Linked DNA regions of Homo sapiens. The protein of the gene in region 3 interacts with the protein of the main gene of each other region in a pairwise test. Each region holds a gene or a part of one and is shown on either strand. Other genes may lie near its edges. The genes, in order: TSC22D4, BAHD1, CHAT and CDS2.

What was found.
Region 1: the proteins of CHAT (region 3) and TSC22D4 interact in binary tests that used the Homo sapiens proteins (3 or more experiments, as listed by UniProt).
Region 2: the proteins of CHAT (region 3) and BAHD1 interact in binary tests that used the Homo sapiens proteins (3 or more experiments, as listed by UniProt).
Region 4: the proteins of CHAT (region 3) and CDS2 interact in binary tests that used the Homo sapiens proteins (3 or more experiments, as listed by UniProt).

The regions. Positions count from the first base shown.
Region 1 is NC_000007.14:100,476,198-100,483,887, forward strand, and holds the start of TSC22D4 (TSC22 domain family protein 4), read right to left. Parts: upstream 3,018-7,690; 5' UTR 2,597-3,017; intron 2,111-2,596; 5' UTR 1,842-2,110; coding exon 1,080-1,841; intron 1-1,079. Other genes in the region: TSC22D4-C7ORF61 (uncharacterized protein LOC122198330), read right to left, coding at 1,080-1,841.
Region 2 is NC_000015.10:40,436,730-40,443,968, reverse strand, and holds the start of BAHD1 (bromo adjacent homology domain-containing 1 protein), read right to left. Parts: upstream 3,017-7,239; 5' UTR 2,701-3,016; intron 2,560-2,700; exon of another isoform or gene 2,434-2,559; intron 1,530-2,433; exon of another isoform or gene 717-1,529; coding exon of another isoform or gene 644-716; intron 621-643; exon of another isoform or gene 1-620.
Region 3 is NC_000010.11:49,609,250-49,617,051, reverse strand, and holds the start of CHAT (choline O-acetyltransferase), read right to left. Parts: upstream 3,016-7,802; 5' UTR 2,863-3,015; coding exon 2,577-2,862; intron 1,030-2,576; exon of another isoform or gene 1,000-1,029; coding exon of another isoform or gene 960-999; intron 551-959; coding exon 450-550; intron 1-449. Other genes in the region: SLC18A3 (vesicular acetylcholine transporter), read right to left, coding at 4,713-6,311. UniProt on the Homo sapiens protein: Catalyzes the reversible synthesis of acetylcholine (ACh) from acetyl CoA and choline at cholinergic synapses.
Region 4 is NC_000020.11:5,185,991-5,193,007, reverse strand, and holds part of CDS2 (phosphatidate cytidylyltransferase 2), read right to left. Parts: intron 6,322-7,017; coding exon 6,169-6,321; coding exon of another isoform or gene 6,149-6,168; intron 3,942-6,148; coding exon 3,822-3,941; intron 3,274-3,821; coding exon 3,170-3,273; intron 2,907-3,169; coding exon 2,774-2,906; 3' UTR 1-2,773. UniProt on the Homo sapiens protein: Catalyzes the conversion of phosphatidic acid (PA) to CDP-diacylglycerol (CDP-DAG), an essential intermediate in the synthesis of phosphatidylglycerol, cardiolipin and phosphatidylinositol.

The DNA.
Region 1 (7,690 bases), on a different chromosome or scaffold from region 3:
GGGTGGGTGCTGAATGCAAGAGTTCAAGAAGAGTTGGGGGAGGGGGGGTAGGAGGGGGCATCACGAGAGATGTGAGCTTGAGGCCAGGAGGGGTTTGGGGGGAGCCAGTCCTGACCGGTCCTGACAGGACCCAGACATCCAGTCCCAGGTTATTTTTATACTGTGGTTTGTGCCCAAGGCCAGGAAGGGGAAAGAGTTCGCATCCTCACACTCCCTGCCTTTCCCCAGACCTCCGAGGTGTTATATTCTCCCACAGGACAGAAGTATCCAACCTTCTATCTCTGGCTGCTCACCCCCACCATGGGGACCCAGGCATCCTGCCCCCACAGCCTGGCTTGTTCCTCTTTTGGAGACAGGAAGGAGAAAGAGTATGGGACTGAACTCCCTTCTGGGGCTCTTCTCTCCCACTCCACAGTGGTCACCCTCGAGTTATCAATCACAGAGAGGCTCAGATGGACGGGGGTGAGCCAGACAACTGGGGGGTGAAATGGATCAACCAGCAGGCCCCCTCCCTGTCCCTGAGAGGTGTTCCCCCCACCCAATTTCTCAGTGACACTTGGCTTACAGCAAAGCTGGAGGCAGGACTGAGATGGGTGGCTGGGGGAAAAGAAAGACCCCCACATTCAGGATGGGGCTGCAGTGCAGAGACTGGCAGCGCGCAAGGCCTACCTTTTACTTTTCCTCCCCAAATCCTGGCAGCTCCTCCCCTAGGGACCCAGCTACCCAGCTATCCAGCTGGGGCCTCCACCCTCATCACCTAGAGGCAGAGGGGCTGAGACCAAGACAGAAGAAGGCCTGATGAGGGGGCCACATATGCTACAGGCTACATGAAGACCAAGACAGAGAATCAGAGGCCAGGGAGAAAGAGAGAGGGTGCAGAAAAACAGGAAGGAGGCTGAGACAGAAAATGAAGTAGGAGGAAGGGGCTTCAGAGTGACCTGGCAGGCACAGAGAAGAGGGCTATCTGATCTTATAAAGTGATGGAGAAGGAGGAGGAGAGGGGGGGGAGGAGGAGGAAGGAGGCTCAAGATAGAGGTTAGGCCAGGGCTGATGGGCCAGCCCTAGAACCCAGGTCTTACCTGCCCCATCTCTTCTGGAGCACCCAACTCCATCCGCAGCCGCATGTCTACAGCTTTCCTCCGGGACAGTGGAGGGGTCCTGGCCCCTGAGCCCCCAGCCTCCGCTTCCACCCTCAGAGAGGGCAGGGGCGTGGCAGCCCGGGATGTGCCCGCACTCTCACCGGTCTCAGGCTCTGGGGGGCGCTGCTGGGGTGAGGAGGCCGACAGTGGGGGTTTCTCTGCCTTGGCTTTGCTGGGCACCACCAGCTGGCCCAGTCCCCCAGTGAAGGAGCGGGCCTGAGGTCCAGGAGAGGTGGGGGGTGGACGGAGCCAGGAGGTGGGGCCCTGAGACAGGCCTGACGGTGGGGTGGGGGCGCCCAGGCCGAGGCTGGCCAGCTCCAACCTGGAATCCAAAGATCTGCCCCCGGCGCCCCCTGAGGCCCCTCGAATTCCCTCCAGGAGTCCGCCGAAGCTGTGGGGCTCCAGGTCTCGCTCATAAACATCCACACACGTCCAGCGACCGCGGCGATAAGGCTCTCCCAGGCCGTGGGGCAGCTTCACCACCCGGAAACGGGAGGAAGGGGCCCCAGGTGGTGGGGAGCCATTCCGGGGGGTGCCCTTGCCCCCCGGATCGGGGCTGGGCTCCCCATTGGGCAGGCGGGGCGGGGGCCCGGTTGGGGGCTGTGGGGTAGGGGGATCCGAAGCCCCTGGGCTCCCAGGGCCCTCATAGTCCGTGGTGACGCTGGTGATTTGGAAACTACTCTTCTTCTTGCCCCCGCTCATGGTCCCTGGGGCTCAGGGCTGGGCCAAGGTTGGGGGTGGGTTGGGGCTCCTTGAAGGGGCTCAGGCACCCCTGGAACAAGGGGGCCACATGGCGGGGACATCCGAGCCCCTGGGGACGTCTGGGTCCGACATGGCAGGAGGGCCTGGCGGGAACCGGGGGTGCCTGCTGGGTGAGGGGAGAAGAGGAGAGGGGAGGTGGCGGGAGGGGGGAGCAGGGGCAGGTTTTTCCTGCTGCTGTTGCTGCTGAACTCCAGAGCTGAGTTTGCAAACTGGAAAAAGAGGGGGAGAGAGAGAGAGAGAGAGAGAGAGAGAGTGTGTGTGTGTGTGTGTGTGTGTGTGTGTGTGTGTGTGTGTGTGTGTGTGAAACCAGTGGGCAGGCCACCTCCGGGGCTTCCTCTCCGGGGAGCAGAGTGGGGGAAGGGGAAACCGTCAGAGACCCAGAGACAGGCAAGAGATGACAGAGACCAGGGCAGAGGGGACTGGATCCAAGAAGGCACTCAGAGTAGAAAGAGGCAGATGAGTCCCAGAGTTGGGCATTTCTCGCCTGGGATTCTGACTCAGGGGGCCCGTATTGTCCCAAGAGCTCGGACTCCAGGGCCTGGGAGAACCAGGCTGAAGCAGCTCCCCAGCCTGGCCCGGCCACTCAGAGAGACCTCTCCTGGGCCTCGAGCCCCCACCCTCACCCCAGCTCCCACATCTCTGGGGCAGGCCCTGCCCGGCTACCCCCCAGCGCCCCACCCAGCCCTGAACCCTACCTCTGGGGCCTCGGCCACTGATCTGAGCCTGAGGGTCCCGGCGCCTAAGAGGTCGGGCTGTCCGTTCCCTGGGGCCTCCTGGCCATGGGCAGTGGCGGGGCACGCAGGCGGCGATCAGAGGCTGTCCCGTCCTCTCCGGGGGCCGCGGCTCATCCTGCCAGGCATCTCCGAGGAAAGTTTGCTCTCCGGAAAAGAAGAAACCCGCGCCTCCTCCGAGGAGCCTAGGAGCGGCCTCTGAAGCCCCAAGGGTCTGGAGACTGATGTGGGAGGGGGCGGCCGAGCCCCCCTCTGCTCCCGGTGGCAGCCAGCGAGTGGGTGTCCCGAGTCTCCTCCCGCGTGACCCTGCTGGGTCCGTGTCTCCGCTCCTCGGCTCCCCTGGGTCTCTGCCTCTCCGTCTTTCTCTTTCTGGGCTGTTGACAACCCCCACACCAGGAAGTCCTGCCTCCTCGGGCCTGCTGACTGCTCCTCTCCTCCTCCTCCTCCTCCTTCCCCTCTTCCTCCCCTTCCTCCTCCCTCCCTCCCTCCTGGGGCTTCCCGCCAGCTGGCCCGGGGCCAGGCCTGCCACAGCCGCTGCTGTTGCAGTTGCTGCAGCCACTGCTTAGGCTGCTGCTCCTGGGGGCCCCAAACAGACTCCCTTAACCCCACACCTGCCGGGCCCTAGCCCCACTCTTGCAGGGAGGGGCTGCAGGGGGCGGGGCTCGGGGAGAAAGGGGAGGAGCTTGCAGGGAGGCGAGGGATTCCCTTACTTGTAGTCAATTGCTGCCATTGGCCTAGAGACACACAGAAGAGACGGAAGGCACAGGCCGGGAGGTGTGCTGCATGCCCACCCAGAAGTTCCCAGTCCCTGCTGTGGGGCAGCTGTGGCTGTTACTGTCATTCTCCTTTGGTTTTCACAGCAACTGCATTATTCCCCCCATTCCTTATTTTTAAAAGTGGATTATTGCCGGATCCCGGTGGTGGCTCATGCCTGTAATCTCCGCACTTTGGGAGGTCGAGGAAGGAGGATCGCTTGAGACCAGTTTGGACAATATAATAGCAAGACCCCATCTCTACAAAAAATAAAAAAAAATAGCTGGGCATGGTGATGTGCACCTATAATTCCAGCTACTCAAAGGTGGGAGGATCGCTTGAGCCCAGGAGTTCGTGACCAGCCTGGGCAATATAACGAGATCCCCATCTCTACAAAAAATTTAAAAAATTAGCACTTTGGGAGGCCGAGGCGGGCGGATCACGAGGTCAAGAGATTAAGACCATCCTGGCCAACATGGTGAAACCAAGTCTCTACTTAAAATACAAAAATTAGCCAGGTGTGGTGGCGGGCACCTGTAGTCCCAGCTACTCGGGAGGCTGAGGCAGGAGAATCACTTCAACCTGGGAGGCGGAGGTTGCAGTGAGTCGAGATCACGCCACTGCACTCCAGCCTGGTGACAGAGTGAGACTCCATCTTAAAAAAAAAAAAAAACTGAGTGTGGTGATGTATACCTGTAGTCCCAGCTACTCAGGAGGCTGTGAGGCAGGAGGATCTCTTGAGCCCAGGAGGTTGAGGATGCAGTGAGCCAAGATTGTGCCACTGCACTCCAGCCTGGGCAACAGAGTGAGACCATGTCTCAAAAAAAAAAAAAAAGTGGATTATTATGAAAATTTTCAAACATGCCATGCAGACATGGGGAGACCATGCAAACTCCACACAGATGGTGGTCCCAGCCCAAAATCAATTTTTAGAAAATCATCAATGTTATAATGAAATGACATTCAATGAAATGACATTGTGTGGGGGCCAGCTGTAGTTTGCTGGACTATTTGAAATCAGATCCTAGATGTTATACTATTCCCCTTTCCCCCAACCTGCCCCCGCCTTTTTTTTTAGAGACAGGGTCTCTCTCTCTCTCTGTTGCCCAGGATGGAGTGCAGTGGTGCGATCATAGCTCACCACAGCCTGGAACTCCTGGGCTCAAGCCATGCTCCTGCCTCAGCCTCCCAAGTAGCTGGGACCACAGACACACACTACTACGCCTGGCTAAATTTCTTTAAAAAAAAATTTTTTTTTTTGGTAGAGATGGGGATCTTGCAATGTTGCCCAGGGTGGTCTTGAACTCCCGGCCTCAAGTGATCCTCCTGCTTCTGCCTCCCTAGTAGCTGGGACCACAGGTGTATACCACCATACCTGGCTAATTTTTTAGTTTTTGTAGAGACAGGTTATTACTATGTTGCCCAGGCTGGTCTCGAATTCCTGGCCTCAAATGATACTTCCACCTGGGCCTCCCAAAGAGCTGACATTACAGGCGTGAGCCATGGTGCCTGGCCTCAGGGAAATTTCTAACCCCTCTTTTTTTGAGACGGAGTCTCGCTCTGTCGCCCAGGCTGGAGTGCAGTGGCTCTATCTCGGCTCACTGCAAGCTCCACCTCCCGGGTTCACGCCATTCTCCTGCCTCAGCCTGTAGCTGGGACTACAGGCACCCGCCACCATGCCCGGCTAATTTTTTGTATTTTTACTAGAGACGGGGTTTCCCCGTGTTAGCCAGGATGGTCTTGATCTCCTGACCTCGTGATCCGCCCGCCTCGGCCTCCCAAAGTGCTGGGATTACAGGCATAAGCCACCACGCCCGGCCTCTAACCCCTCTTTAGGGGTACGTAAAAATAAAACAATGCAATACCTACCCTCTTTATGTATTTATTCTTTATCTCTTTGTTAGAAGCATCCACACTTCTGTTTCTCTCCCTTAAGCCATAGTAACAACGGCTGCCATAGCCCAAGTCTGTGGGCCTCCCAAGTAGTGAAGTCTGGGAAGCAGCCTCCCACCTGCTCCCTACCCCTCTAGACTGCATCCCTCTGTCCCTTACAGAACCTTTTCTCCTCTAGCAACATTCAGAACACAGCCTTGGTCCCTCCTTCCCCAGACCCTCCTTCCTTCTTGCTGACTTGCTACAAACTATTCAAAAATTATCTTTGGGCAGTCTCTTTCTCTGCCTCAGGCACTGGTATCTGAGTCTAGAGGCCCTGGCACATTGTTGATCTCTGCAGAAATGTTTGTTGAGTAAATACATACAAATTTTTATATTTTAATTTGAGATGAAGTCTTGCTCTGTCACCCAAGCTGAAGTGCAGTGGCGTGATCTCAGCTCACTGAACCTCCGCCTCCCAGGTTGTGATTCTCCTGCCTCAGCCTCCCGAGTAGCCAGGATTGTAGGCACCCGCCACGACGCCTGGCTAATTTTTGTAGTTTTAGTAGAGATGGGCGTCTCATCATGTTGGCCAGGCTGGTCTCGAACTCCTGACCTCAAGTGATCTGCATGCCTCAGACTCCCAAAGTGCTGGGATTACAGACGTGAGCCACTGCTCCCGGCCTATACATATAAACTAATCATACTAAAGGTATAAATGTGAAATGGGTTTTAAGTGTTTTAATATTTCCCTCCCCTGGGAGCATTCTTAATAGCCTATAATATGTGGGACCTTTTACAATTTACAAGGCACTTTGGTATTATTTTACTACCCCTCCCCTTCCAAAGAATGGACTAAAGCCAGCTTGTCCAACCGCACGGGCAGCTTGTGGCCCAAGACAAATTGGTAAATTTTCTTAAAACGCCTAAGTTTTGGTTTTTGTTTTTGTTTTCGTTTTTTTTTTTTTTTTCTCTGAGACAAAGTCTCTCTCTCTCACCCAGGCTGGAGTGCAGTGGCCCGATCTGGGCTCACGTCAACCTCTGCCTTCCAGGTCAAGCGATTCTCCTGCCTTGGCCTCCCGAGTAGCTGGGATTACAGGCGCAGGCCACCATGCCCAGCTTATTTTTTCTATCTTTAGTAGACACGGGGTTTTGCCACGTTGGCCAGGCTGGTCTCAAACTTCTGATGTCAGGTGATCCACCAGCCTCGGCCTCACAAAGTGCTGGGATTTACAGGCGTGAGCCACCGCGCCCCGCCAGTGTTAAGAGTATTTTATGTGTGGCCCAAGACAAATTCTTCTTCCAATGTGGCCCAGGGAAGTTAAAAGAGTGGACATCCCCGGACTAAAGCGTCTCTCAGAGAGGTTGCACGATCTGCCTAAAGCCACACAGCAAGACTGCAAAGACGCTGCCATGGAAAGTAGCATTCGCAGGCTCCAGGGATCAGGCCGTGCCTATCTTTGCCGTGCCCATTTTCCAGCCCGTGGAAGGTACAACCGAGGTCTTCTCGAGCTGATTTACCCCCGCTGCAGAGCTGTGAGCCCAAGGGATTTCAGAGGGAGTTATTTCTAGGGGAGATAATGAGAAAAGAAAAGATAAATGAGAAAAGGGGAGGTCGAGGTCACGTCCCGTAGCGGCCCCCCGACAGTGCCAGGGTGGTAGCCGCGGTGGCCACACTCAGGTCGACCCTGGTCGTTGCGAGCGGCGCCGGGGGAGTCAAAGGTCACGAGAGGAGGACTCGGGCCACGGGGGCGGATAGCTTTGAGCCCAGACGGTGGAACGAGATCCGGGCACCCCCGGGAGGCTGCAGGGGGAGGCAGCCGATTCCCCCGCGAGCCAACTCAGGTGCTCTCCTGGCACCTGGGGGCGGTGGGGAAAGGGGGCGCGGCCGCCGGAGCACGCCCCCTGCTGGGCTGAGCCGCCGCCCGTCCCGTTCCCCACCCTCGGAGCCCCTCGGCCCGGAAAGCGGCACCCCCTGGCGGCCCCAGCGCCTCACTGCACCCCGGGCCCCGCAGCCGCAGCCTCGGCCCCGGACCGACGCTGGGTGCGGACCCGGGGCGCGCCGGGCGTACGGGTTGCACGGGGTGCACGGGGTACACGGTGCGGGGGCGTGGGCCCCAGGCTGCCGCTGGGGGGCGCCGCCGCACGCCGCTCCGCCGGGGCCGGGGAGACCGAACTCAGCACCGACCGGCCGGGCAGGGGGCGAGGGGCGGCGAGGAGCGGACGCCCAAAGACCGCGACGGGCTGGCGCCGGGCCCCCAGCGCCCCACGACCTTCCTCCGAATCTGCCCCCGCAGGCTCCGCGGCTCCCCCGCCCCGCGCCCCAGCCCCACGGCCCCGCGCCGCACGGCCGCTCCCGTTCCGTCCTTGGAGGGTGTGGAAGGGTGGGTTTGGGGCCGGGGGCGGGTCTGGGGGCGGACCCGGAGGCGGGGC
Region 2 (7,239 bases), on a different chromosome or scaffold from region 3:
CCAGACTAAGGACAAGTGGGATTCAAGTGGGAGTAAAGGAAGGGGAGCGGCAGCAGTGAAGATGCAGGAAGAAAAAATGTGCATGGTATGGCTAGGGAAGAGCTGGAGGGGACACTGTCTAGGGTCAGACTGCAGGGAACGGGGAGCCATTGCAAGTCTGTGAGAAAGGGAGTGACACCGGGAAGGGGTGTTTTAGGAAGAATGACCTGGTAGCTGCATACAGACTGGATCAGAAGGGCCAAAGGAAGCAGGAGGGAAAGGGAGGCTATAACAACAACACAGGCCTGACACGGGGACAGCAGGACAACAGAAAGGAAGAAAGAGAGGGAGATATCAAAAAGAACCTAATCACTGGCTAAACTCTCCGGAGCAAACCCTCCTTAACACCAGATCCGACTGGCATGAGTCTCCTGCCAGGTAAGAGCCCTACCAAAGAGGGAAATGCTATTTGGGCAACTCCCCTTCATATTCCAGTGGCCAGACCACGTCATCCCCTTCTGACTGCCACCAAAAGAAATCACATGCCGTGTAGCCTCACAGAAGGCACAAAGGCCTTGAGATTCATCATCACTCTCTGGATTTTAGACATGCAATTAAATTATCTCAGAACAAACTTTAGCCTCCTGAGTGAGGTAATACCTACCTTTCTCACAAGCCTCAGCTCCATCCAGGCTGGGGTCTAGATCATTCCAGGGAGGTCCATGGGGGGTGGCCATGAATAAACTCCCATGCCCATGCTACCCTCTGAAGTGGCAGACAAGCAGCTTTCCCAGGTGGGATTACAGCCAACCACAGTTGAGAGCGGCTTCTAACCAGCCCTACCTGAGGTGGGACTCGAACTCAGATTCTCAGCAAAATCCACATTCTGAAACAGCCTGAGTTTCCCTGTCCTTATGATCCCAACTCTTCTTTTGGGTGTGGGGTTCACATGGAGGGCATGGGAGCTCTGAATGAGTTTTTCCAAGCAGGTAAACAACATCCAGCTCACAGCTGGTCACCGGGGGAGATGGAGGCACTCACAGCTTAAGCCAGTGGTTCCTAAGCATCCTCCAAGCTGGCCAAGGACAGTGGTGCCCCTCCAAGACATGTGGTCCCTCTGGGCCCTTTTTCTTTTTTTTTGTGGAAGACAGCGAGGTGAAGAGAGTAGGGAGGAAAGTCTCAGGTGGCACAAAGTAAAAGGACTGGAAAGCTTTTTATTTCATTATTAAATTCCTGCCTGGATTTATAAACTCAGCTTCTCATTTTTCTAAGTGGGTACCTTTGTGGCTAAGGAAAAGTGCTGGAGGCAGCTGCGGAGGGCTGGCGGGAGCCCACGGGGTGGGGTGTCTCTTGTCCTAATCAAACTAGTCTTCTGCACTTCTAACACTGTCGACAATGGGCGACTAGGAGATGTCCCAGGTGGGGTTAGACTTCTGCCTGTAGGCAGACTCTGCTTGTTGAAAAACCCCTCATTCTTGACAGGCTCTACAGCGGCTCACTGGGTCTGTCGCCTCGGTGAGTAGCAACCCCGTCGCCACCAGCCAAGGCACATCATGAGCATACACCCCCACCCCGGCCCCTCGGCCCCCGGCAAGTAGACCCCACTTCCCAGAGCCTCGAGGCCAACAGCGAGCGGCTAGAGCGGCAAGCCAGTGCCGCAGCTCCTCCCGGCGGGCGCCCCGGCCCCCGCAGTCCCCGGGGCAGAGTCCGGCCCCGTCGCCCGCCCCTCGGAGTGGGTGCCTCGGACCCGCTCCCCTCCCCGACGCCACCACCTGCGCCCGCTCCGGCGCCGCCTTTGTCCGGCGCTTCACCGCCAAGCGAGCCCCTCGGGCCCGACCTGACCCGGCCCCCAGCCCCAGAAGAGAGGCGGCGGAGCGAGCAGGGCAAGACCAGGCCGGGCCGCGAGCACAGGGTCCCGCTGTCACTTGGAGGCGGTCTGACAACTTCGATTCCCCCCGCCACACCTCGGACTCGGCCGCCGCCCCGCAAGGTCCCCGCAGGGCCTCCCGCGGCCCACACTCGCTTTTCGAACCGGTCCCCTTCCGTCTTCGGCGCCTCCCTTCCTCTCAGCCCGATCGAGTCGGGTCTACACTACTCCCCCCTGCCGCCCCCGGCCCGGCGCGGCCCTCATCCCCTGCCCCCCATCCAGCAATAACCGGTCAGCTCCCAGCGCGGGAGGGCGCCCCCCACCCTGAGCGGGCGATCCCGCGGCGCCGCCCCCGGCCGCGGCCCCTTGCCTCGGGGACCGCGATGGGGGAGGGGGCGCGGCGGGGGCCTCGCCGCCCGCGCACTCGGAGGCGAGCCGGCTCCGCCGCGGCGAGGAAAGACCGGCGTCCTCCCGCCCTCCGCAGCTCGGGACGCCCGCGCCGCCGCCGCCCGGCCGAGCTGCCACCCTGCGGCCGCCACCCACCCCGCCCCCGGCCTGCAAGGCGGGCGGCCCCCGGGGGCTGTCACCTCGAGGCGCGCCGCGTTCCCCGATGGCGGGACCGTGGTGCCGGACCCAGGGGAGGGAGGTGGCGCGAGCGGGCGGGCGGCCGCACCTGCTTCGCGTCGTCCGTCCGTCCGTCCCTTCCCGGGCTGGCGGGGGCGGTGGCGCGGCGCGCTCGGTGGGGCGCGCTGACGGGCGGCCGGTGCTCTCCCCCTTCGCTCTTCTGCCTACCTCGCTCGCTCCCTCCCTCCAGCTCGCCCCTTCCCCCTCCTCGACCCCGGCCCCTGACTCACCAGAACGGGCGGCGCGGACGGCGCGGCTCTGGGCGCCCGCAGGCCCCGGCCGGGCTGGAATCCGGCGGCTGGAACCCCCCGGGGGCGCTCAATTCCCGGGCTCCACGCTGCTGCGTCAGCGCCTCCTCCTGGGGGCCGGGGCCGGGCGGGCGGAGCGGGGACCGCGGCCGGGCGGGGCCGTCGGGGGGGGCGGGCGCGCCTGGCCGGGGCGGGCGGACGGCGGGGGCCGGACGGGCGGGGCAGGCAGCCGGACGGGCGGGCGGCGGGGGCCGGGCTCCGGGATCCGCTACGCCGCTCGCGGTTCCCCCACAAACTCCCCGAGAGCGGAGCCTCCGCCGCCCTCCTTCCTGCTTCCTCGTCCCCAGCCAATCAGCAGCGCGCCCCTCGGCCAGCTCCGCCAATCAGCCGCCCCGCCCTGCGCTGGCTCCGCCAGCCAATCCGGCCCTCGGCTCCCCCTCCCGGTCTCTGACCAATCAGAACCGTGGGTCGGTCGTCCCAACGCAGGGGGCAGCACGAGGCGGCCGGGGGAGGCGGTGCGGGGAGTGGTGGGGCCTTGGGGGAGGGGTGCCGTGCCAAGGGTGGTGGCAAGGGGTGATTTTCTTTGCCGGCTTCTTGGATTTTTCTCTTCGTCTTCAGAACCTGAGCCCGTATCCCACGGTGACTCGACCCCAATCTCCCAGCTGCTAGCCCCCCCGGAAAAATCTTATCTCCCCCCGCCCTGGCCATCACCCCTCCGCATCCCCTTTCCCCCAAATCCTCCCCAGCACGCGCTGGAGAAAACTGCGGGCCGAGGAACACCCCATCCTCGCCGGAGGCTGCTGCCCCCAGGGCAAAGCTTCAGGAAGACCAGCCGAAAATCAAGCGAGAACAACCCCCCTTTCCTGCAGAAAGGGCCCCAGACTCCTGCAAAAGGGCCCCGACTGCTGAGAAGCCCCTCCCGCCCTTGCCTCATCTTTCCGACTTCCCTGCCTGCCACGTCTCCTTTCCTTTCCAGCAAGGTCGGTCCTGGCTCGGTAACCCCTCACCCGCATCTCTTTTTCCTCTTTCTGCCCTTCACCTACCGCCCCCAACCCCAGCTCCTAATTCACCCTCTTCAGAAGCAGAGTGTGGAGCCCTCATCCATTTCCAGCTGACAGCAGAGCCTGGTCTGTGAGTCCTTGACACCCACACACCCTCTTCCACCACCGCGGGGAACATCAGAGCTCTCCGGGGGAGGGAGAAAGGGGCGGGCAGCCTGACAGGAGCGGCTGGACTCCCTCCCTCGCGTCCCCAAGCTACGGGAGAACCAAGTGTAGACACTTACCTGGCTTCCCCCTAGTCACCAAATGCTGTGGCTCCGTCTCTCACCCCCACAGACGTGCCCTCCCAAGCCCGAGCACGCTCGCGGGGTCAGTGGGGTGGGTGGGCACAGCAGGCTAAGGGCACAGAGAGAGATGGGAAGTCCCTGTTAGGTGCGGGAAGGAGCTGTGTCTTGGGCACCTGGTGGTGCCAGAGCCCGCCTAGGACTTCACTAAGCCCGGGATATGCACACAGTAGGTTCTCGAGAAATGCTGAGTTCACCCCTGAACAAAGCCTCATTCCCAATTCAGGCGGGGGAGGGGAGCTTTAGGAGGTAAAAGGAGCAGCGGCAGAAAGGGTAGTGTCAAGTCACCAGAGCGCTGGAGCAGCCCAGGGAGGGGCTGGGCCCCAGGAACGCCTTGGGCAGAGAGAGGCACCCAGAGTGCTGAGGCTGCCCAGGCAAGCAAGGAAAACCCAGCCTTGGAGTGTGGCCCAGGGGCTTCGGAGGGGCTCCTCCTGCACCACACACAGCGCCCAGCCTTTCCTAGACCTTGGGACTCCAGCGCTCACCCAGGCAGCCTTTTAAGACAATCAGGGCTGCTAGCCAATATGGCTGGGAAACAACCTCCCCCAGAAGCAGTTCCCCATCTGCCTCCAGAGCTGTCCAGGGGGCCCAGACTGTCTTAGCTGTTTGGGGGGACACACTTAAAGGAGGGGCCCCCTCAGCAGGGAAAGTGTGTGAATGGAAGCTAAAAGCTAAAACTGTGGCACGGAAATGTCTCGAAGGTCCAGGTTCTCCCACTGCCACTTCTCCCACCTCCCACCCTTGGGGAAAGCAAAACCCCAAAGCTGTAAAAGTAGGACGCTGAAAGATTTCTCCCCTTCCTGGACAGGACAGAGGTTCCCGGCAGCGCCCCCCCAACACACACCAGGCCAGCCCTACTCCCCACCTCACAGAATTCCCCCTCTCCCTGTCCCAGTCTGGCCCATAGGCAAATTAACCCCACGGTGGCCCCCACTCGTCAGAGATTGGTGGTGGAGGGTACAGCAGTGGTGGCCACGGGGGCAGAGCCATGCTACAGGCCAAGACAGAAGAGAGGCCGGGCTCCTGTCTGCAGCCCAGGCGGCGCTGACCTTGGCAGCCACTTCAGGCCTGATAATGGGCAGGGATGGAGGCCGGGAGGGCCAGAAGAGGAATGTACCTGGTGGCAGGGAAGGAGACCTAAGTGGCAGGAAGCCCACGTTCAGCCGAGGAAATGGCAGCAGGACGAGGTGGCAGGATTGGGTGTCTTCCTGGTGTTGGCATTAGAGGGCCCTGGGGTGAGCAGGGGAGTGTTGTCTTATCTGGGGTCTCAGTGGGAGGGAAAGGAAGGAATACCAACCGGAGAGGAGGCAGAGTAGTCATGACAGCCCACCAAGTGCCTGCCTGGCCGCTGGAGGAGTTCTCCCCTCAGAGCCTCCAGTGTGGGTGGCGGTGTCCGCTGCCCCAGGAGGCTCTGACTGAGTGGGCTATGGTGCGGGGACACGGGCTGGCTAAAGGCACTAAGTGTTCCTCCTGTGCCAGCTCACTGAGCCACCTCTGTCCCCCCTTCCTCCCTATTGCTTGTTAAAACAAGCCAGCAAAGAATAGGCAGGGGCTACACCCTGCCTGTCCCCCAAAGGGAACTTTTGGCCTCTCCTAGCCTCCTTCACCCAACTTTCAGGGACCTCTGCAACTGGGCCTCCTTCTTTCCCAGTCCAAAGCCCTTCCACAGCTGGAAAGGGCTCCACCTCTTCCTCCTTCCTTCGGTCCTGTAACCTTTCCTGAGTGAATGCTGCCTCCACCCCACTTCACTGGGCAGCTGTGCCAACGCCTGGGGCCCATCACCTTTCCTCTCCCTGGTATGTTTGGCAGCCCAGAGGTCTCCCACTGAAAAAAGGGTTTGGCACTTGGTGTAGAAAGAGGAATGGGTCCATCGGGTCTCCGGAGTCTTTCCCGGGCTGCTGCCAGGCAGGGGCTCTCTCTCCCCAGACACCTCCAGACCCATCGGGAAGGGTTAACTGCCTCAGAGGGAGATGCCCTAGAGTAAAACATCCAGGGCCAGAGAGACCACGCGGCGCACCCTTCCCCCACCACACACAACCAGACTGACAGCCGGGACAGACTGGCTGCTCGGTCATCTCCAGCCCAGCCCCAGCACCTCCCCGCCACTGCCCGCTGCAGTCCCCGAAGACCGCCTGGCCTGAGATCCAACCACCTGGCACCAGGCAGGGCACCCCAACGGCAGTGCAGTCCCTGCAGTGGTGGCAGTGACCACTTTCTCCTCCCTCCAGCCCCTGCCCAGGTCCCACCTTCTTTCCTGGAAGTGGGGCAGCCCCTGTCCCAACCCCCAGAGCACCTGAAGTCTAGGTCCCCACAATACTTACTGAGCCACCCGGCTCCTCAGCCCCACTGGACGAACTGAAGGGCACAGCTCTTTGGGGGAGGGACACCAAGGCAACAATTAAATGCGGCAGCAGCACTTGCCCCCTCCCCCATCATAGGAAGCCCCTGGGGGGTGGGGGAATAAAGAAAGCTGGACTTTTATAGTCCTTTTGCTGTGACCCACTCCCTCTTAAAGGGATTGGAACACCCCTCCTTAAAGGGATCTCCAGAAATTATTTGCCCCCCAGGCAAATCCTAGTGCAGAAGTCTGGTCTTTACCTGCGGGGGCCCTCTTCCCTAGGGATGAGGAGGTAGAAGTGCTCCTCCTGACTCTTGAGCTGGAGGGGCAAGGTACCCTCCTACCACCAAGGAGCCAGCTGTTGAGTGCCCAGTGAGGAACAGGACCTCTCCCTCCCCTGAAGGCAACTACGGCCCCGGCCTTGGGGGTGGGGAGGTCCCGGTGAGGTAGGGACTGTGTGGGACTCAGTCTCCGCACAAGAAGGAACAAGGGGGCTGCATGCGCTCAGACTTTGGGGAACACATGTCCATGGCGCTGTGTCCAAAACCCCCATCTGCCCAGCGCTAGCCTCCAGATTGCCGGCCAGGGGACGTCTTTGCAGTCTGCCTCTCCCCGTAAAAGCTGTTTCTGCATTCTCCTTCCCGCTCTCTGAATCCCGTCTCCTACCCTCTTTGGGGCCCTATGCCTTTCTCTTGGGGTGCATTCTCTGCCCCTCACCCCAGTCGCCTCCTCCGCAGCCCCAACAACTGCGGGCTACACCCTATTTCAGGCTGTCTCCAGACCTAATCGGAGTGTCCCCGGGGTCCTTCTCACCCCGCCCACACCCCCGACTACCGTC
Region 3 (7,802 bases):
GGATGGCATTGTCTCAGGCCAGTGGAGAACATGGTGCCTAAGGCTCCAAGGCTGAACTAGTGATAGCAGCTGGAGCTGGGACTTGCAGGGCTTGGAGTAGGAATTCAGCCCCACCCTAAGGCAAAATCACTGGGCTCAAAGCTATCAGAAGTGGAAGCTGGGATGAAGAGAGGCCCTGGAAGGAAAGATAGGGCCTAGCCTGGCCAGGGGATTTGGAAGTTAAGCTCTTAGCATTTCCTTGGCACCCTGAGGCCCGTCTCAGCCCCTCCAGGCCCTTCTGGGATCCTCAGCAAGCTGGGGGTGGAGCTGTAGCCTGGGCCTTGTGCCAGTAGAGGGCAGGGCTGGGGCCAGGCAAATGCTGGGGGCCAGTCCCACTCAGGACTGTTCTAGAAGCAAGGGCATGTAGGTGGGGAAAGCAGGGTTGAGAGAGGGCTCCAAAAGTCACTCACAGACTCCTCACTGCTGGGAGTTTTTGCTGCCATCTTACGGGGGACCTTTTCCAGGATGGGCGTCTTGGTGAGTCCTGGTGCAGGGATGCAGAGGTGTGGACCTGGGGACCAAGAAGTGGGAAGCATCAACACAGCAGCCACATAGGCCTGTCACAAACCCTCCACCTCCCGCCAACAGACCCCCACCCCAGCCCCATGAGGAGGCCAGAGCCTGACAGCTGTGTATAGGGGTCTCATTGCAGGCGTGGCCCCAGTCTCTACTTCCACCTGTACGTGCTGACCACAGTGTTCTCTCTGGGCCCCCATATGGGAGAGAGTGGTTCCTAAAGTGAGGGTCTGCTCTCATGAGTCTGTTGTCACCCAAGGCCAGCTGACCACCCTGGGGCAATCCAAATCCACCAGGGGTTGCTGGCAGAGTGCTGCCTTTGTTCCTGCCTGGAACCCAATAGATAAGTGCTTTGCCAATCAAACTCTCTCTTTCCCACTAGCTTCTCAAGGGTAAGACCATACCTACTGTGCTCAGTGCTTCATCTCTGCATTCCGGCCACATCTCTGGTGTGGAGTAGGGTGAATTCCCTCACTCCGTTGGTGGAGGGAAAGGAATGCATGCGTGGGTGAATGGAGGCCTTTAAGGCCCTGTGCTCCAGGATGCATCTGGGCTAATTGGGAGCCTGGCCTGTGGCCAGGGCAGGGAGACTCTGGGCCTGCTGGAGGCGTTGTGACCTAGGCAGTCTCGGGTCTGCAGGCTGCCAGTGTAGATGCCATAGGAGTGCCCAGGGAGGTATGCAGGGAGGCTGGGCAGCCAGGGCCCCTAGGGGCCACCTGCCTTAGTCTGGGGAGAGGCAGATTAATTTTGAAGGTACAGTAGAAGTGAGCCAGGCCAAGAGGGCAAAGACTGTTATTATTAGGCTGTGGGTCACAATTGCTACCCTCTGAGATCCCCCTGAACCTAAGCCTCCACAGGCACATACTCATGTTTTCCACCAGCCCACCCTCTATTCTCTCAAGTCTAAAGCTGAGGTTTAGCTAATTTCCTCACCCCTCTCCCCACCCAACACCACCCCTACCCAGAGGCAAGCACCGCCCATGTATGGGCACCTGGCAGGGTTGTTGCCAGGAACAGAGAGTCCAGAAAGATGGATGAACCAGGCCCAAGGATGGAGGAGCCTGGGGCTGCCTTGCAGTGCTGGGCAGAGAATGTAAAGCCCTTGCTGGCACAGTGCAGGGACACTCTCCACAGGCTTGTTCCCACGCCTCCCAGTGCTGTGGGTTCGTAGGGGCTGCCCCCAACTGCAAAGTGAAAGAGGTGGCGTCCTGGTGAGGATTCACCGGAGCATGGCAGTCTTTTGAGAGGACAGCAAGGACAAGGTCAGGTTGGTAAAGGCCCTACAGACCATGCAGCCAATGCCTCCTTTTGCTCTGGCCCAGAGCCCCCCCCTCCCCCCCATTCGGGAGACACTAGTCAGGCTTCAGGGACCCTGAGCTTGAAGAAGGCAGAGCTGGGTGGGATGGTTTCCTGGTGGTCCCACCTACCAACTCTTCTTCCTCCATCACTCCTGGGCAGATGCCTAGAGGATGTATGTGTATATATGTCTGTTTGTGTTTTGTGCCTCCCACCCATGCTCCTGCCAGCCTGGCTTTCCAAGGGCTGCCTGCTCTGCCCCGAAGGTCCAACCCCAGTCTGGCCGGTCATTCACAGGCTGTCATCGGCTATGTCCTGGCTCAGACTTGCCACCAGCCACTGCTCCTCCTTCCCCACCCCCTGCTCCCGGGAGAAGCGGTTGCCAACCAGCAATTCAGGCGAGTCGGGTCAGACCCAAGGACCCTCCGACTAGACACAGAAAGCGCGGACCTGGTCACTTAGCAGATGCTGGGCCAAGTGAAGTGAGAACATGCGCTTGGAGTCCCGAAGCCCTGATGGTTAAGCCTCCCCAAGCCCAGGCACCGAAGCAACGCAATCCTGCAGCTTCCTAGCTGACCCCCGACGGCCGCTGCTGCGCAGGACTCAGAGGACTCCACGAGTCCTGGGGCCTCTCGGCCCCGGTGCTGTCCCTGGATAGAGCCCCCGACCGCCGCCCTTGCTCCCGGCACCGCGCTCCGCCAGCCCAGCCCAGCCCTTCTTCTCACCTGCTCTCCTCGGCTCTGCTGCCTCGGCCGACGCTGCACCGCACCACTCAGGAGTGTGGGCGGGGGTGTGAGCCGGAAGGGGTGGGGGGCGTGTCGCAGCGCGGGGGTGGGGGCTGCAGCCTGGGTTCCCGGCAGGGCCTCCGACGTCGCCCGGGTCCCCGCGGCCACCCGACTGGAGAAAGCAAGCTGGCCGCACTTCTCTCCTTCCTCTTGTACCTCCTCCCTCCTCTCTCTTCCATTTCCCCCCTCCCCCAAGCCCCCTCTTCTTCGCTGTCCTCAGCCCCATCCCTTCCCCAGCTCCCCGCCCAGGGATCTCAGCTCCCGGCCCCCAGAATCTACCCGGAGCGCTTCCCGGAGGAACTCGGGCAACAAATTTAGGCTCTAGAAGGGGGCACAGAACACTGTCCCGCCCATGCCTCCTGCCCCTAGCTCAGCATTTCCCAGTCACCGCACTTCCCCAACCCCATTATTCCAGCCTTGGGGTGCTGCTGCTGAATCCTGGAGAGGGTTGGGTCTGAGGAAGTCTCTGCTCGCTGCCCTCCTCTCCCCACCATCCAGGCCAGTCTCAAACCCTGCTACACCATCTTTCAAAATAATAATAAGAAACAATAACTGGGATCAATATTCACTGCAGGACTTCCCTTTCTGTTACCATCCCATTCCTGCTGGCACTATGGGGTGGGGAGCAGAGGTGGGGTGCTACAGACTTGGGACAATCCTGATGGCAGACCTGAGGATGCTTAAGGACTGCGGCAAGAGGCAGGCTCTCCTCTCAGACAAAAGCATCCCCCACCCCAGATAGAGACCCCCACACAGAAATAGCACAGACAGACCGACAAAGGCAGACTCCGCCCAGGCACACACAGCCCGACTCGCAGATCGAGGACAGACATGCGCACAACAGCAGAGCAGACCCTCACAGGCGCAGCTAACACACAGGCGACCCTGACCAGCCGCCTCTTCACGCTATGATGGGAAGACTCTGCCTCGATCATCAGACTACGGTCTTCGGGACATGGAGTGTTGCGCGAACGCTGGCTTGAGGCTCTCAGGGCTGGGACTAAGGATGGGAAACTTTCCTGACAGTCCTGGGCCGCTGCTCCCACTCAGGACAGGGTGGCAGTGGGGGTTGGCACCAGATCCCACACTCGCATCTCTCCCTTCAAGACTCAGACCCTCGGGACTGACAGGGATACAGCAAACACCAACCACGGCTCCCCCACTCCTCCTAGGACAAGTTCTCTAATGAACACACACATCACATCATACACACATTTCCAGAGGTCGGACTCTAAAAGATGGGCCGTTTTTCTTCCTCTGCCGGAATGCTCGGCTCCTACTCCTTTCTCAAAGCCTCAACGGGGCGGGATTCTGGTCTGAAGGGAAGCTCAGCCCAGGCACCTCAGAGCTCTGAGGCTGGTGTGGGGCGTGTCCTCAAAGGGCGGGGCCTGGCGTGCCTAGCTGGAGCGGGTCCTCAGGCTCCCCCGGGCGGCATCCCCGGGCTCTGCGCTAGGCCTGGAAAAGAGGGTCTATCCTGGGCTGAGGGGAGCATGGTGCTCCTTGGTGACCGTGGGTGACAGCCTTTGTTGGGTTTGCTTCCTTCCTATCCCCTTTTCCAGGTAGAAAAACAGCTACAGGTGCCTACGTGTTAGTTTGGCTTAGGTCTGGATTGGGACTTGGAGACCCAGTTCACCCTCCCCTCTGCTCTGGCCCTGCGCGCCTCCACGCACCCCCCACCAGTAAAGAGACTCGGCCTCCTGGGACAGACACAGTTTATTGATTTGGGCGGAGGCGCCGCGGTGCAGCGGCCCAAGTTTGGCACTGGGAGCAATGGAAGGAAGGACAGACAGATGCAGGCTCTACACAGGGGAGCCGCAGGTGGGGACTCAGGGTCCTCTTCACCTCCGCAAGGAGCGCGATGGCTTCGCTGGCCTCGGTGCTCCAAGCCCCATTGGACAAGAGAGAAAGGGATATGGAACGGGTCACAGGGAGGGGATTTGGGCAGAAGTCAAGGTTGAGGAGTGGCTGGGGTACTCGCTGGAGGAGGTGGGCCCTGAGCCAGAGCTGGCCAGTGGGCTTGCAGAGCAGCCCCCTTGACCCAAGGCGGTTGGGTGGGCTGGAGGAGGAGTGGGGATGCTAGCTGCGGGTGTAGTAGTAGTTGTAGTCGTCCTCGCACGCATCAAAAGGGCCAGGCGGGCTGCGAGGCTCGCCGTCCTGGCCAGACACAGGACGCTCACGCAGGCGCACCGCATCGTACAGACCTTGCGGTGGCTCATCAAGCAGCACATCGCGCTCGGAACGGGAGCGCGTCAGGAGGCCCACGTTGCGGAGCAGCAGCAAGACGGGAGCATAGAGCAGGTTGGCCAGTCCCATGCCAAGGCTGAGCTGCTCAAAGCCCAGCGAGTGCACAATGTGGCCTGCCACTATGGGCCCGAGCGCGTAGGCCACCGAATAGGAGATGTCGGCGATGGCGTAGACGCTGCCATAGACTGAGACATGGCGCACGTCCACCAGGAAGGCGAGCGTGGGCAGCAGTGCTGTGTCGACTAGGGCTATGCCAAAACAGAGGCCGCATAGTGAGACCACTAGCGGCGCGAAGGAGCGGCAGGCGGGCACGATGCACGAGCTGGCGCCGATCACAGCCAGCCCAAGCGCGCCGTACAGCCACTGCAGGTGTGGGTAGCGCGCCGCCAGGCGCACGGTGAGGTAGACGCCCAGCACATGAGGCACGAAGGCCGGCAGCCAGGCCATGCCCATCTCCCACTCGGAAGCCGCCATCGTATGCTTCATCCACGTGGCAATGGTGGGTTCGAGGAAGGCGAGGGGAATGTTACAGGTGGTGAGCGCGCCGGCCACCACGGCAATGTAGGGGTCTAGCATGAGGCGGTGGATGGGAGTGCCCACTGGCAGGTTGGCCCGAGCCCGTGCAGCCGCCGAGAAGGGTTTGGCCACTGCCAGCAGCAACAGCGCGTCAAAGAGCGACACGGCAGCTAGCACCAAGAAGGGCACGCGCTTGCCGGCGAACTCATAGAGGATGCCCCCGAAGGGCGGGGCCACTAGGCTTCCGAAGCTAATGAAGGCCAGCGCCACGCCCAGTGCACGACTGCGCTCCGGCTCCTCCGGGTACTTATCGGCGATCATGGCTATGCCAGACGTGTCGGCGAAGGCTGAGCCCAGGCCCTGCAGGCTGCGCGCCGCGAACAGCGTGGCGTAGTCCTCGGCGAAGGCGAACAGGACTGTAGAGGCGAACATGACGCCCAGGCCGATCAGCAGCGGCACGTCGTAGCTCATGCGGTCGATGAAGGGCCCGCTCAAGGGGTTCACTAGCAGCTGCAGGATAGCCTTGGAAGCAAACAGCACCCCGATCTTCACGTCTTCGCTCTCCGTAGGGTAGCGGGGCCGAAGGGCTGAGCCCGCTGGCCACGCAGCTGTCGGGGACGCCGAGGTGTTGGCCGTGTAGGCGCTGGCATTGGCCGGAGTGGGCAGCGGCAGGGTGGGCTCCCACACCTCGGGAGTCCGGGTGGGGCCCTCGCCGCCCCCGCGCATGTGGGCGATGTAGTCGGGCACTATGGGCACGATGACCATGTACAGCATGTTGTCCAGTAACAGCGCCACGCACACGATAACAAGCACCAGGCGCCTCTGCCGCCGGGGCTCCTGCAGCGCCGCGCCCACAGCCTCCGACAGCTTGGTGGCCGCCGCCCGGGCCTGGCCCGCAGGTTCCGCGGATTCCATGCCCCCACCCCGATGCTCTTCCGAGGACGCCTCCGCCAGGGCCGAGCGCTGGCGTCCCGCAGTGCAGAGGCGAGGGCACGGGACTTCGGGGAGGCTGTCCTGGCCGAGCAGACTCCCCTGTGCCTCAGGTGGCCGCGGAGCTCATGGCCCAGCGTCCCGGGAAAGGAAAGGACTCCGTCCGGCGAGGCGTTGCAGCTACTCTTAGCCGATCCCGGGACCCGCGGCTGCTGGGCTCAGGGGCGGCCGGGAAGTCGGGCGCGCCGAGGGGCCGGGGCCGGAGACTGGGCGCACTTCGCCCGGGGCGCGCCCAGAGCAGCCCCCGCCGCGCTAAGAGGCCGCCCGCGCTGGCCGAGGGACATGCTGTTGCCGCCCGCCCGCTTGCCCGCCCGTTAGCCCCGCCGCTGCGCTCCCCTCCCCTCGCGTCGGCTCTTGCCTCCTCCGCCGCCTCCTCTTTTTTTTTCCCTTCCACTCGGGGCTGTGACGCGGCGAGTCCCAGCCCCCGAGTGGTGCCCGGGCCACTTACGTCGCTCATGCTAATGCGACGTCGGCGGGGCGGGGGCCGGGGGCGGGGCGTGGCCGGGCAGGGGTCCGCTCTCCAGATGCTCCAGGGCTGGAGGCCCAGGAAGGGCTCTCGGTGTGGAAGTCTTGAACCAGCCCCTGGGATGGGCGTTCCGCGCCGGTAGCTGGCCCTCTGCCCCCCGCCCCCTGCCTGCCCCCCGCCCGCGGTTCTAGGACTCGCGGGGTCAGCGCCCGCTCTTCTCCTCTTGGGGAAGGGGGCGCGGCAGCCGGTTCCTCGAGGCCCCTTGGGAGAGGCGGGAGCCAGAGGCTTGCGATCTCCGCTTCAGCCTGGACCTCGGCGCACAGCGAGCAGGAAGCCCCCGAGGTGAGCCGCCGCTGCGTCCATCTGTTCTCGCAGCTGGATTGTGGAGCCGCGTCCGGAGGAGCGCTGGACACGGACACCCCCAACCCTTTCTCCGACTCCGCCCCCTGGCCCCTTGCACACACACTCCCGCCAGGAGGGGAGGGGAAGGCTCAGCAACTGCCTGGCCTGGCTCTGACCCACCGGCCCCTCCGCAGAATTTCTCGGCCGCGAATCGCGGCCGGGAGCTTGTGGGGACTGAGGGCAGAAGTTGCCGCGCCCCAGTCGGGGTCGCGAATATTAGCCTGGCCGCTGCCGCCCTCCCGCACTGCCTGGCCACATTCCCCTTGCCTGGAATCCCCCTTTCTCCTTTAGCGGTCTGGTCCCCCAGCTCCGCCTCTTCTCTCCCCGCCGCCGCACCCCCTCCCCACTCTAACTCCTCCCAGGCACTCTTCGCACCCGACCAAGCCCTCCCTCGGCTCCTGCCAGCCTCCGCCCCCTGTTCTGCACACTCCCCCATCCCTCATTTTCCAGAGCCTCCTCCAAGCCCCGGGTGGGCTCTGGAGTGACTGTGGCTGGGGTCCTCTCTTGGAACTGTAAGAAACCCTTCTTGGGTGCCGCGCCCACTCCCC
Region 4 (7,017 bases), on a different chromosome or scaffold from region 3:
GAGCTAGAGGGAAGGAAAGCTGCAACACCTCGGTGTACTCACACGACGTTCACAAAAGCAAGCAGGGCTGGGGGACCCTCCAGGTGTCCTGTGGGTAAAGTGCAGGATGGAGTGAGTCCTGACTCCACCACACTATCCTGGGGAAGCTCCCTGCCTGGTAAGGTGCTCATGACTCTCACCCGAGGTAAGAAGGCTGTTGTGAGAATGTAGGGATACAAGTTGGAAAGCAAAGCAAAAGTCTCTGAATCAGGACTATGCAGTATTCATGAATACATAAACAAATGAGAAGCATAAAACCATGCATGGAAGTGATAAACAGGGAATTCACGACAAGGGAGGGCACACAGTTGCAGTCACATTTTATTTCTGACCAATAAAAAAAAAATGGGTCTAAAGCAAGTGATGCCATTCATGAAGATTTGAATGTACACACGTAAAAATGGTTTCTTGAATCTTGTCTGTGAATAGGAAAGAGAAACATTGTGCTATATGGACACAAGGTGGCAGTGCTCTCCTAGCTACCTGACAAAAAATCCTCATCTCCAGAAAGCATGCAGGAGAAATCAGAAAATAAAACACAAGCTGACCCTCTGGCCTGCCTGCTAGCAGCTCTAGTGCGCACTCAGCTTCGGCTTCCTAGACCCCCCTTCCCCACCCCACCCCCACCAAGTAACCACTTCCACAAAGGAACATGATGAGCCTTGCCCAGTATGCTCGGCTCCCTGATCCCAAAGGCAGCCCTATTCAAGAGCAGGTCTCTGCAGCCAGGCCCCAGCTGAGACTCCCTCCTCTCAAGGAGCCCACCATATGCCCACAATGGGACAAAAGAGACAAATGAGGAGCCCTTTCGGTATCTAGTTTGGTGATCCAGGTTCATTCTTCAATCTGAAAACTACAGTTTCGTTATTGATCACCTTTACTGTTCGGGTGTGCTGCTGAGATACCTACTCACCTTAAGGATAAGCATGTAAGGGCCTGAAAACACTTCCTGTTTGGGGGGTGCCCAGGACCTCACTTAATGAGCCTCTACCGGCATGAACTTGCTCAGCCAGAATCACAGAAGAGTGGAATTGGGAGTAGCTCCGAAAAAGAGGCCCTGGAGAGTGATGCATCCTGCCAGTGACACAGCCAATACTGAAATGAAAGCCCTTGCGATAATATGTTTTGTTTTTAAGGGGCCTTGGACCTGAATAAGAGAAGCCACGAGGCTGAAATGGAAATAAAAGTTCAGCGGAAAGAAGCCGCTTCAGCCCCACACACATATGGGAAGTCACTCAAGGATGTGTGAGCTGAAACATCCCGAGGGCTCCATCCTCTGCTGGACACTCTAGAGACCTGGGCTGACTGTGCACTTTCAGGGAGGCAGTGAGGCTAATTTACAAACAAAAACACCACAAACCAGCACTAGACCAAGGTGCAGAAGCAAATCATTACACCCTCGTTGGCAATGAAAACATCCACGGCACGGAATAGTTTGATATATTTGGGTGCCAAGTTCTCTCTCCCGCACTCCATCACTTGTTGGCCTGACAAAGAACTAATCTGTCTTCCCAAAGTCAATCTCACCCCTGAAATTAGGGAGGGGAAAAAAAATCACAGTTTAAGCAAACAACAACAACGAAAGGTCCCCCAGTACAATACAAACTACATTTAAACTGGTCACATTATATAAAAAGTGTGCATTTAATCTTCAAAATAGTCAAGGCTCTAATCAGGTTAGGTTTTCCATAGTTTTAAGCAGGACTTTGTGGTTTTAGTGAAGAAGTCATGGTGCAATTGAAATCACTGTAAGAAATAAGTGACTTTTAAAACAAACACAGACACACACACTCCTCTTAAGAGTAATATATACACAACACAGCAGCTACATGGGTGTTCAGGCAAAGGGTGCATGAACGAGAAGCCCTCTGCTCCCTGCCCGATGAGAAAGTCCCCAGAAAGGATTCAGCAGCAGCAAGTCTACAGCACAAACATGGATGGCATTGTCCCTGAAAACACACAGTTAGGTGGACCTACAGGAGACATTGGAGCCTAGACATGTGGGAAAGGGCTCAGTTACAGTACATTCTACTGCATACACTTGAAATATTACAGTGTGTTTTTTCTCCAGACTATTATAAATAATTTTTCGTGCTTTCTGAAAAAAATAAAAACTGAAACTTTCAGTCTGCGATGAAGGTGAACCCATCTTATAAAGCAGAGCTTACTTACATTCTGCAGGATTTTGGTGTGGATGCATAGAAGGCTTACCTGGTTAGTAAGCCTCCATTCCTCCGACCTACAGAAGGCAACCCTTCTGCAGCTCCAAGCAGGGATTTCTAGAAAAGACCAGGTGTACAAAACATCTAAGCTGTGCCTCCCACCACAGGTGGGGAAGTCCCCTGATTTGGTCAGACACAGATGAATGTCTGTGTCTGACTGAGCCCAGAAACAGTTCAATTGATGGGGGCTGGAACCACCAAGAAAACACTCCTGACCTGGGCAACACTGTCTTCCAGATTATTAATACTTTTGTTTTAAAAAAATCCAAATGGTTTTACAACCCGTGACTTCTTTCCAACTCAAAGCTGTAGTTTACTTACAACACAAATTCTAAACACATAGACTGTATATACAGATTTTTTGAACCCACAAATAAAAAATACCCTCCAAAAAAAAAAAAAAAAGACAGTGAGTTGAAGCCTCGTCATTGTCTAAGTCACACCAGCTGGGCTTGCCTTGGAGACCTGCCCCTGCTCAGTTCTGTTCCTGTTCTCCTGGCCCTGGGTGGCCCCTACTCGTCCTCTGTGGTGGATGTCAGCATCCCTTTGTCGATCAGATGAGACCGCAGCGTGTTGAAGATGTGGAGCTGCTGATCTGGCCGTAAAGTCAGGAACTGCTGAATCAGTTTGCTTGGGTTAGGGCCTCTGGAACAGAATGTGAAGAAACAGCACTGAGCTAGGGCCCGGAAGCTTCCAGGGCCTGATTATCTGAGTGGCTGCTCTGATCTCTGGATCAGAGAGTTATCTATTAACAGATGACAGGAGGCCTCAGAAAATCTGTAAGCAGAAACAACTGAAAACTGCATTATTTGGGATGCTTTTCACTGGAACTTAGATGCCGCTAAAATTCTAGAATTGCACCGTACTTAAAAATCCACCAACTTGGTTCAGATGGAAAGGTACTATACCTGATAAAACTGGCGATGTATACATTGACAAAGGTGGCCATCAGATACTGGCAGTCAAAGCGATCCATGATGCCTCCATGGCCAGGAATGGTATTGGCAAAGTCCTGTTAGAGGCAGGGGAAGGATGGGTGAACTTGGGCTCAGCCACTAACCAATCCCAGCCTAATGGTCCCACCCCAATGTCAGGCTTCTGTGCTGAGTAGCTGAGGGCAATAGAAGGTGAGAAGTATGAAATCTAATGGTGAGGCTATATTAGGACACAATTTTATTGCATTACAAAATGTTCTTATTTCATTTACTTAATAAAGACAGGAGTCTTGCTATGTTGCTCAGGCTACTTTCTAACTCCTAGCCTCAAGTGATCCTCCCGCCTTGGCCTCTTAAAGTGCTGGGGTTACAGACATGAGCCACTGCCTGGCCCAAAATGTTCTTTTGAAGAAAGATATATTAACAAATAAACTGAAAAACAACGATTGCATTTTCCTGAAAATATTGTTATTAATTAACTCACCTAAATTCAGTGCATGGGTCAAGATCACACATTAAATGCCAGGGTGTACAGCCTAGTATTTTGGAGGGGGCAGGGAAGGGGGAGAAAGGCAGAAGATGGGTGAGGGAGTGAGATGAGAGGAACGTAAGACGGTTTTCCTACTTTGATTTTAAAGGCTCGTTTGAATCCACTTGCGAAGAATCCTCCAAAGGGGCCAATGAGCGAGGCAAAGGTGGAGAGAGCGATGCTGTGAATCTGGAAGGGGTACATCCGGACCGTTTTCTGAGAAGAGTAAATGAAGTAAAAGTTTAGGTGCATACATGCCCAGTGTTACGGTTTGAGTTGTCAACTCATGTTGAAATTTGATCCTCATTGTGGCCTCACTGGGAGGTGATGCCTAGTGGGAGGTGTTTGGGTCACAGGGGCAAATCCCTCATGAATGGCTTGGTGCCTTTCTCCTAGTAGTGAGTTCTGTCAAGAGACTAGATTAGCACTGGCATCCCGAGGGAATGGGTTGTTATGAAGTGATGAAGCCCCTGGTTTTGCCTCTTTGCATGTGTCTGCTTCCACCTTTGACCTTCTCCGCCATGTTACAATGCAGCATAAAAAGCCCTCACCAGAAGCCAGGCAGCAGCCAATGCCACACTTCTCACACTTCTCAGCCTGCAGAAAGAAGCTAAGTAAACCTCTTTTCTTTGTAAATTACCCAGCCCCAAGTGTTCTATCAACACTAGACAGACCAAGACATCCAACCTCGTAACTCTTTATGAAACTAATTATATACATGTAGGTTTTAAATCAATAAGAGGAGTGAATTTTTCCCATTTTGTAAATTTCTAATATCTAAGTTAATGGAAAACATTAAAATATTCTGCATTCAATCTGTTGCAACATGCTGTTTTGGTGGAAGTATATAAAGAAAATCCAGCCGTACGCAGATACATAGTTGAAAAGAGTATTTTAGTCGTAGCCTCAGATGGTTTTGGGTATTCTCTGACACTACACCAGAGCTTGACAAGTAGTCATTTCTTGAATATTAGGTGTGATATGGAATCTAGAATTCTATCAATGGACTTTGTTCTCTCTTACATTAAAATCCATTGGTCTATCTTATACTTGAACGGATCTTTTACCCATGCATGACTATATAACACCATGCATCAGCCATTTAGAAAATAATGGTTCACTGAGTTATGTAAATCTTCCAAATGTAGACACATTTCATTATACCGTGTCAAATATGTTTGTGTTTTTTCTCATGTGATCAACACACACACACACACACACACACACGTACGTTAAGAATCATCACAGACCTCATCAGAAAAGGCTTTTAAGTATTAGGAAGCTGTCAAGTTCACAGTGGCAGGTTAAGCTTTCCAAAATTCTAATTTTCATTTGAAAGCCAAATTTTATCCTTGGTAACAATTACTGTCAGTCATTTTTCTTTTCTTTTTTTTTTTTTTTTTGAGACAGTCTCACTCTGTCACCCAGGCTGGAGTGCAGTGGTGCGATCTTGGCTCACTGCATCCTCCGCCTCCTGGGTTCAAGCAACTCAACCTCCTGAGTAGCTGGTAGCTGGGATTACAGGCACACGCCACCATCCCCAGCTATATTTTTTTGTATTTTTAGTAAAGACGGGGTTTCGCCATGTTACCCAGGCTGGTCTGGAACTCCTGACCTCAAGAGATCTGCCTGCCTCGGCCTTCCAAAGTGCTGGGATTTCAGGTGTGAGCCACTGTGCCTAGCCTCAGTTGTTTTCTTTAAAGTGATAGGCTCACTTCATCCTTTTCAAGAAAAATGTCTGCCAAATACCCAAGTCTGAAAAATTATAATTTGTTGGTTCTTTCCAAGTAAAATTTACTTTCTTTTCTAAAAAAAAAGCAGCTAATTTAGCTCACAACTCAAACAACTGCACACATGCTTTCCCTTTAGGCAAGCACTGTACTACAGTACTTAGCAGAAATGTTTTACACATACTTTCCATTTCAGTAGAGAGTGTTAAAAAGGTGTGTGTACAAAGGTCAAGATTTAACAAAATTAGTAACTTTACTATTTCATAGACATTCATTAGAACTGGCCTGTTTGTACTGTGAGTGTGTGGCATGAGGAACCCACTGCCTTAACGCAGTTTTAACCACTGCTGCTTTTGCGCCGTATCACAGCAAATGTCAACACATTGAAAAAGGAAAATAATGTCATAGTCTAATTATGAAACAGTTGTGACCTCACAGACCCCCCCACCCTACCCCCGCAACTAAAAGGATCCCAGGGCCCTCCAGGGATCCACAGAACACACTTTGAAAACCACTGGTCTAAACAATCTGATGTTGGGGGAAAGCTGTCCTGCCCATACCCTGACCTGGCGTGAGCAATTCTCCTTCATCCTGGGGCTTACAGCTTTGGGAAGGAGGAAGCTAGCTTTTTTCAGAGGGCAGGTGATGGAGGGGGATCTCTCTTTGTAGCCACTGTCCATGGAGGCCGCTCACCCCCTGTGAGTGGCACATACCCAGCCAATGACTGACTGGATCACCCCAGGAATGTTGTACTCCTGCAGGCGAAACAGGTCCGAGGGCTCACAGTCCACAGTGAAGCTGTTGGTGTCATTGTTGTACTCCACAGGGCAGACAAAGCATCTGTACCCGGACATCACATAGGACAGCTGAGGAGGAATAACAGAGAGACCGGCAAGGAAGTAAGTTCCAACCATCCAGCCCAGACACAGGCACCTGGTTTGGCCATGTTCCTGAGGGTGCCTAGTACCCTGCTAACTGCGAGCTATGTGCTCAGAGGTTCATGTTTTACCATACATATTTTACCTCAATTAAAAAAAAAAAAAGAGGCTCATGACCCACCAAGGTTACATACAGGAACCCAAACACCCAGGCCCCGAAAGAATCCGGGAAAACCTGAAGGGACTGGGGCAAAGAACTACAAGAAGACTCTCCCCATTTGGGGAGCTAGGACCACTTTCCTCAAGATCTCTGAAGTCAGTGATAACTGGAGAGAGGCCATGGGGAAGGGGCACAGTGAGAGGCAGATCTCAGGAGGAACAAGGCTGGAAAGCAACAAAGCTGGGCGGTGAGCACTGAAGGGCAGCCAGACAGTGCTGAAGAAGGAGGACTGGCCCAAGGGTCAGAAGCAGAGAATGGTGCTCTGGAAAGGGCAGGAAAATCACCCACCTCTGGGCAAGGCACACATAGGAGAAAAGCTGTGTATCTCATCTTCCCTTGGGTGCACTCACCCTGACCTTGGAACATCAAATGCCTGACAAGAAGGCTACCTGCTGATGTCACCATGCCTGGGCGCGAGAGGGCATAGAAGGTGCTCTCCAACTGCTAGCACCCTGCCTGAAAGC